Linked DNA regions of Homo sapiens. The protein of the gene in region 1 interacts with the protein of each later gene in a pairwise test. Each region holds a gene or a part of one and is shown in the gene's direction. Other genes may lie near its edges.

Region 1 (3,651 bases):
ATGCTTTGACAGAAGAAAATCAAAATTATTGCAGAGATGGGAAAGAGCATCAGAGAAATCTAAAAGTAGAAGTCATCAAGTGGTAAAGGGATTTGACATGGTGGAAGAGAGAATTGCAGGGATATAACTAGGTAATATGGCAGTGTAAACAGAAAGTAGATAACTGTGCCTTAGAAAACTGGAAGAGTGTCACTCTATGCATGTGAAAAAGGTTTAAAGATCTATGCCAAGAATTTCCGTGACTTTTAAACAGTATTTACAGAAAATTCCCAGCTGTTATGGGAAGAATAAACTGGGGAGGTGAGATCAGAAGCAGAAAAGCTAGGTAAGAAATCTTGAGGAACAAAATAAAAAGGGGATGGGTACATTGGGAGATAAGAAGAGCTGGGCCTGAATAAGGCCGTGGGAACAAGTTACTTCATCTTCTTGAAGCTCAAACATTTTACAGAGCACTCAGCAATTGAAGACAGACAAGACCCAAACATCACCTCTAAAGAATCAGCTCTGGGAGGAGGGAGATTTTGTCTGCATTGCGATTTCCCCTACCTTAGACTACAATAGGCACTCAATATTAACATTTTTAAATTAATTAATTGTGGTATCTAAAGTCTAGTGTGAATTAATGCAAGGAGCACAATTTTTAGAAAACTAAATGAACAGTTTTACTGGAAAAATATATATACTAAGACAGTCAAGAAAAAACTGTATAATTTGGAAAAATTAAACATTAAGAAAAATGGTTTCTTTTTAAAGTTCCATAAGCTTACAGGAGCTCTAAAATGTCTAACACTTGCAGACTGCTGTTTTCTAAGGGATCATGAAAAGGATGCATGCTTCATAAATTTATCCCAGCATGAAAAATCAAACATGGTAAAATGTTAGGTGGAGGTTAGTAACTCTCGGGCACAGTATTTACTTACTTTTGCTATATTTTTCCAAAGGATATTCTGGACCACTGAAGGAAATTCCTCCTGAAAAATTCAACACCACAGCTGTCCCTAAGTACTATCAATCTCCCTGGGAACAAGCCATTAGCAATGATCCGGAGCTTTTAGAGGCTTTATATCCTAAACTTTTCAAGCCTGAAGGAAAGGCAGAACTGCCTGATTACAGGAGCTTTAACAGGTAATTCAATGGTCCTGGGTGACACTGTTGGCATGCAATACCAAAATTTTTTCATCATGGTACAGATAACTGAATTCCCTGGTAGAAAGCAATTTTTTCTTTTGAGAAAAGAATCTAAATAGCAATATAGGATATCTTCTAAGCCTAGGCAAAGACTCATTTTTGTAATATTACTATTATTTTCAAACTTGGTCATTTTTAGTATAAAAATGAAGGAAATGATTCAGAAACTATCATTGGTATAACATCAAGATTATCCCTTGATACTTTAAAAATGTTATTTTAATAATAGTTTCAAATCCAAAGATTGATCTGGGTTTATGCATTGTTTCAAATGGCAATACTGTTCAAGAATTTAATAAATAATTCACATGCAAGGCTATGAGAATTACTGTGTAACTCCAGATTCTATCTTACATTTTTGCAGGCTTTAGGACAGATTAAAAGTAATTTAGAGACTTAATGGCCCAAGATTCCAGAAGAGGTACAACCCAAAACTTATGCTATCAAAAATATCACCAAATGATATCTGTAGTATAGTTTATAGAATGGGCATCCATTTTTCTCTGTTATTCAGTTTTTATAATTTCCATGGATATTTTGAATTTTTAATAGTCTCATAATCCATTATTTGATCACTTGACCTTCATTTTAGAGTAAAATATTAAAATATCTAATATCTAGTATGCTGTCTCACACTCAAAAAAAGTTAGACTCAATTTATAGGCAGCTTAATAACCATTCATTTAAAAATGAATAAATTAATGAGTAAATTTTTTTATTTAAAAAAAGAATGCCAAATAGACTGCATTTAAACAGTGATCTTCTTAAGTGATCGGATGTGGTGGCTCATGCCTGTCATCCCAGCACTTTGGGAGGCTGAGGTGGGTGGATCACTTGAACCCAGGAGTTCAAGACTACCCTGGGCAACATAGCAAGAACCCTGTCTCTACAAAAAATACAAAAATTAGCCAAGAGTGGTGGCATGTACCTGTAGTCCCAGCTACTTGGCAGGCTGAAGTGGGAGGATCACTGGAGCCCAGGAGGTGGAAGTTGCAGTGAGCTGAAATCATGTAACTTCACTCTAGCCTGGGCAAATAGTGAGACCTTGTCTCAAAAAATAATAAATAAATAAAATAAATAAAAATAAATATTGTACTATTAAGATTTTAGTTTTTGCACACTACCATTATTAGTAATGCATCCCTTGCATGAAAGAGGTGTACCATAGAATTTAAAGAGGGGTTGAGGAGTGGCAGGGAAAGAAAGTTGGAGGCCCATTCTGATCAATGTTATAATTTTTTTTTCAAAATGAGAGTGTAGAAAATTATAACAAGTAAAACATTAGGGGAAAATGGAAATTAATGGAATAACTCGGATTTGTTTTTGAGATTAAGTGCTTAAGACATGCTGTAAGACTTCTCTGTATCTTGTGGCTTTGGTGCCCTGTACCTGCTGAGCAGCTTGCCTGTAGTTCTACACACACTGGTGTGGTAATATTTGGGTTAGTTATAAAGAGATGCCTATTGACTGTATAAATACCAGGTGAGTACTATATCAGTGAGCACAATACCATTCAACAGGAAATGTAGCTCCCTGTGTTAATCAAAGCTTTTGCAAATATTACATGCTGTGTGTGTGTGCGTGTGTGTGTGTGTGTGAAAACTTAATCTGCTAATACTTCTCTTTTACTTTAGAACATTTTATTCCTTTGCATATCTACATCAACGTAGAAATAAAAACTTAGGAATTAAATTCTTTCAACATGATAGTATATTCTTAGACTTCTTATTATTAAATAACATTAATGGATGAAACAAAACATGATATGATACATAGACAGCCCAAACAGATAGCTGTAAGATCCTTTCTAACCTTGAAGCGTATGTAGGCCAGGTGCGTATGTACAGGCTGGGGTACATGCCTGTAATCCCAGCACTTTGAGAAGCCAAGGTGAGCTGAGCCCAGGAGTTTGAGACCTGCCAGCACAACATAGTAAGAACTCAAAAAGTGAGGCGAGAGGGTCGCTTGAGCCCAGGAGGTTGAGGCTGCTGCAATGAGCTATAATCACACCACTGTACTCCCACCTGGGCAATGGGAGAGAGACCCTGTCTCAAAAAAAAAAAAAAGTATATGCACAGGGATACACAAAGTTTAAGACATTGTCTAGTACGTGCATTGCTTTAGAAGTCCACTTAAAAAACAACTAAACAGTATACAGGCATACCTCGTTTTATTGCACTTCACTTTACTCTTCTTGGCAGATACTGCATTTTCTCACAAATTGAAGGTTTGTGGCAACCCTGTGTCAAGCAAGTCTATTGGTGCCATTTTTCCAACATCATGTGCTCACTTTGGTAATTGTCACAATATTCTGATTTCATTATTATTATATCTGTTATGGTGACCTGTGATCAGCAATCTTAGATGTTACTATTGTAACTGTTTTTGGGATGTCATGAACCATGCCCATGTAAAAAGGCAAACTTAATCAATACATGTTGTGTGTGTTCTGAGTGCTCCAAT
Region 2 (3,680 bases), on another chromosome or scaffold:
ACACTGGGTCATGGCCTGGAGTTGCTGATAATTTAGGTGGGATAGATACTTGGTCTACTTAAGCTCAATGTAACCCAGAGCCCACCATATAGTTTTATAGGTGCTCAATTTTCTATATCGCTATTAAACTTTTTTCTTTTTTTCTAAAAACTAGCTGGGCCCAAAGTTTCAAACAACAGCCGGGCACACATAGCTAGCTGGTCGATGAGGCAGCACCCAGAATGGCCGCTGTCTTGTTAAGCTCAAGCTCCAGCCTGAGCAACATAGTGAAACCCCAATTCTACACACACACACACACACAAAGAAGACTGCAGGGCTGGTGGTGCAGCGCCTGTAGTCCCAGTTACTGCAGAGGTGGAGATGGGAGGATCACTTGAGTCCAAAAGGTCAAGACCAGCCTGGAGGCTGGGCGCAGTGACTCACACCTGTAATCCTAGCACTTTGGGAGGCCGAGGCAGGCGGATCACCTGAGTGTAGGAGTTCGAGAGCAGCCTGGCCAACATGGAGAAACCTCGTCTCTACCAAAAATACAAAAATTAGCCGGGCGGCTGGGCGCGGTGACTCACGCCTGTAATCCCAGCACTTTGGGAGGCCAAGGCGGGTGGATAACAAGATTAGGAGATCGAGACCATCCTGGCTAATACGGTGAAAGCCCGTCTCTACTAAAAATACAAAAAATTAGCCGGGTGTGGTGGCAGGCGCCTGCAGTCCCAGCTACTCGGGAGGCTGAGGCAGAAGAATGGCGGGAACCCGGGAGGCGGAGCTGGCAGTGAGCCAAGATCGTGCCACTGCACTCCAGCCTGGGTGATAGAGCGAGACTCCGTCTCAAAAAAAAAAGCCACGCATGGTGGTGGGCGCCTGTAATCCCAGTTACTCGGGAGGCTGAGACAGGAGAATCGCTTGAACCCAGGAGGCGGAGGTTGCAGTGAGCTGAGATCACGCCACTGCACTCTAGCCTGGGCGACAGAACAAGACTCCGTCTCAAAAAAAACCAAAAAAAATTTAGAGGGGCGTGCACGCCTGTATTCCCAGCACTCCAGGAGGCTGAAGCAGGAGGATCGCTAGAACCAGGGGTTCAAGACTGGGGCGAGCTATGATGGTGCCCCTGCACTCTAGCCTGGGCGACAGGGCGAGACTGTCTCAAAAGAAAAAAAGACCAGGCGCGGTGGCTCACACCTGTAATCCTAGCACTTCAGGAGACCAAGACTGGAGGATCGCTGGAGCCCAGGAGTTCCAGACCAGTCCTGGCAACAGAACTAGACCGTGTCTCCAAAAAAAAAGAGAAAGAAAAAATAGAAACCTTAGCTGGGCTTGGTGGTGCGCATCTGTGGTCCCAGATACTCGGGACGCTGAGGCGGGAGGATCACATGAGCCCAGGAGGTTGAGGCTGCAGTGAGGTATGATCGCGCCACTGCACTCCTGCCTGGGCAACTGAGCATGAACCCTCCTCAAAGCTAATGGCGCTTCAAAATTCTGCAGTGCAAAGAAGTTGCTGGGGTTGCGGAGCGGAGAACCGCCAGGAGGCTGGAGCCCAGCCAGGCAGCCTCCTCGGGCACACGGTGAAGGCGCCGGAACTACAGCTACCTCCGCGGCGCCGCTTCGGCCGCCATATCTGGGTACACGGGAACCGCAGAGGACAAACTCTCACCCGCGTTTTCGATTTCTGCGCTTTCTTCGAGTGAGGCAAGACCTAGCAGAGGCCCAAGGTAGAGCGCGGCTAGGATTCGATGGAGGGAAACATAAAGGATAGCCTTTGGAGGGTGACGGGCAAGGACGTACGTACCGCGAACGGAATGGGGCGGGGGCCGAGGACGCCGAGGGAGGGGCGGGCCCAAGTGTGAAGGGAGTCTGGGCGATACCATTTTGGGCAGGGGTTGAGGGTGATACCAACTTAATGGGAGGCGGGTGGCAGAGAACCGAGGCTTAGGGGCAGTGGCGGGGCCGAGCGCGGGTGGGGGATCGCGGAGGGACAGGACGGTCGCCCACTGCTCCATTTCCTTTCTCCCCAGCCCGTCCCTCCCTGCCAGGAGCAGCCTCATGCGGACCGAGCCGCTGTGCGGGGCATCCCCTCTGCTGGTGCCCGGCGACCCCTACTCTGTGGTGGTTCTGCTGCAGGGCTACGCGGAGCCAGAGGGTGTGGGCGATGCCGTGCGCGCCGACGGCTCCGTGACCCTGGTCCTACCCCAGACCCGGGGCCCGGCCTCCAGCCACCGAGAGTCCCCGCGCGGGAGTGGCGGCGCAGAGGCCGCCCTGGAGGAGGCGGCCCGTGGCCCCATCCTGGTGGACACCGGGGGCCCCTGGGCTCGGGAGGCGCTGCTGGGGGCGCTGGCGGGGCAGGGCGTGGCCCCGGGAGACGTGACGCTAGTGGTGGGGACCCACGGGCACTCGGATCACATCGGGAACTTGGGGCTGTTCCCAGGCGCGGCTCTGCTGGTCTCGCACGACTTCTGCCTTCCCGGAGGCCGCTACCTGCCCCACGGGCTGGGTGAGGGGCAGCCCCTGCGCCTGGGCCCGGGGCTCGAGGTGTGGGCCACGCCGGGCCACGGGGGCCAGCGCGACGTGAGCGTGGTGGTGGCCGGCACGGCTCTGGGCACCGTGGTGGTGGCGGGAGATGTGTTTGAGCGAGATGGGGACGAGGATTCGTGGCAGGCACTGAGTGAAGACCCCGCAGCCCAGGAGCGGAGCCGGAAGAGGGTCCTGGTCGTTGCCGACGTGGTCGTACCTGGTCACGGGCCCCCCTTTCGAGTGTTAAGGGAAGCCTCGCAGCCCGAGACGGAGGGTGGAGGGAACAGCCAGCAGGAGCCGGTGGTCGGAGACGAGGAGCCCGCCCTGCACTAATCAGCCTCGAGAGGGACTGCACTCTTGTCAGGGAAGCCCTAACAGCGAAGAGCTGCTGGAGACAGAGTCAGAGCAGTCAAGGGTGGGAGCTTCCAGCCCTTCCAGGAGGCCAGTTTTCTAGTGAAGACAGAGTGCACCTGACACTGCCATCACATCGTCAGTATCACTGCCTGTCTCTGCCACCAAACTAAGATCAAAGGAGGGGCTCAGCTCCCTGTGCATTCTCCCTGGGCCTCAGTAAAATGGGAGAAGGTTCGTGGGAGGGGCCTCCAAAATAAAAATGGAAACTGCATTGAAAATCATAGTGCCCTAGTGTAAATGTGAAGCATTGACAATGATAATCGTGCAAACATGGTAATCTACAACTACAGCAGAGGCATACTTTGGCCAATTGCCCCTTTCTTATAGGATGGAGGTTGCTGAGAGAAGGTACAGGGCATAAAGATGACCCCTTAGTCACCTGACTTATGTATTTGTTCATATTTTTTTGTCACACAGGCTAGAGTGCAGTTGTGCAGTCATAGCTCACTGCAGCCTCCAGCTTAAGCCATCCACCTGCCTCAGCCTCCCAAGTAGCTGGGATGACAGGCAAGTGCCACTATGCCCCACTAATTTTTTTTTTTTTTTGAAACACGGTTTCACTCTGTCCCCACAGGCTGCAATGCAATAGCACAATCTTGTACTGCAGACTGCACTGCAACCTCTGCCTCCTGGGTTCAATTGGTTCTTGTGCCTCAGCCTTCCCAGCAGCTGGGATTACAGGCTCACACTACCATGTCCAGCTAATTTTTATATTTTTAGTAGAGAAAGGGTCTTACCATGTTGGCCACACTGGTCTCAAA

What was found. Proteins that work in one complex are often made in the same cells at the same time.
Region 2: the proteins of MYOZ2 (region 1) and MBLAC1 interact in a two-hybrid assay, tested with the Homo sapiens proteins (one large-scale study listed by BioGRID).

Annotation. Positions count from the first base shown.
Region 1 is NC_000004.12:119,163,270-119,166,920, forward strand, and holds part of MYOZ2 (myozenin-2), read left to right. Parts: intron 1-941; coding exon 942-1,125; intron 1,126-3,651.
Region 2 is NC_000007.14:100,125,359-100,129,038, forward strand, and holds MBLAC1 (metallo-beta-lactamase domain-containing protein 1), read left to right. Parts: upstream 1-1,608; 5' UTR 1,609-1,706; exon of another isoform or gene 1,707-1,813; intron 1,814-2,009; 5' UTR 2,010-2,037; coding exon 2,038-2,838; 3' UTR 2,839-3,137; downstream 3,138-3,680. UniProt on the Homo sapiens protein: Endoribonuclease that catalyzes the hydrolysis of histone-coding pre-mRNA 3'-end. Involved in histone pre-mRNA processing during the S-phase of the cell cycle, which is required for entering/progressing through S-phase.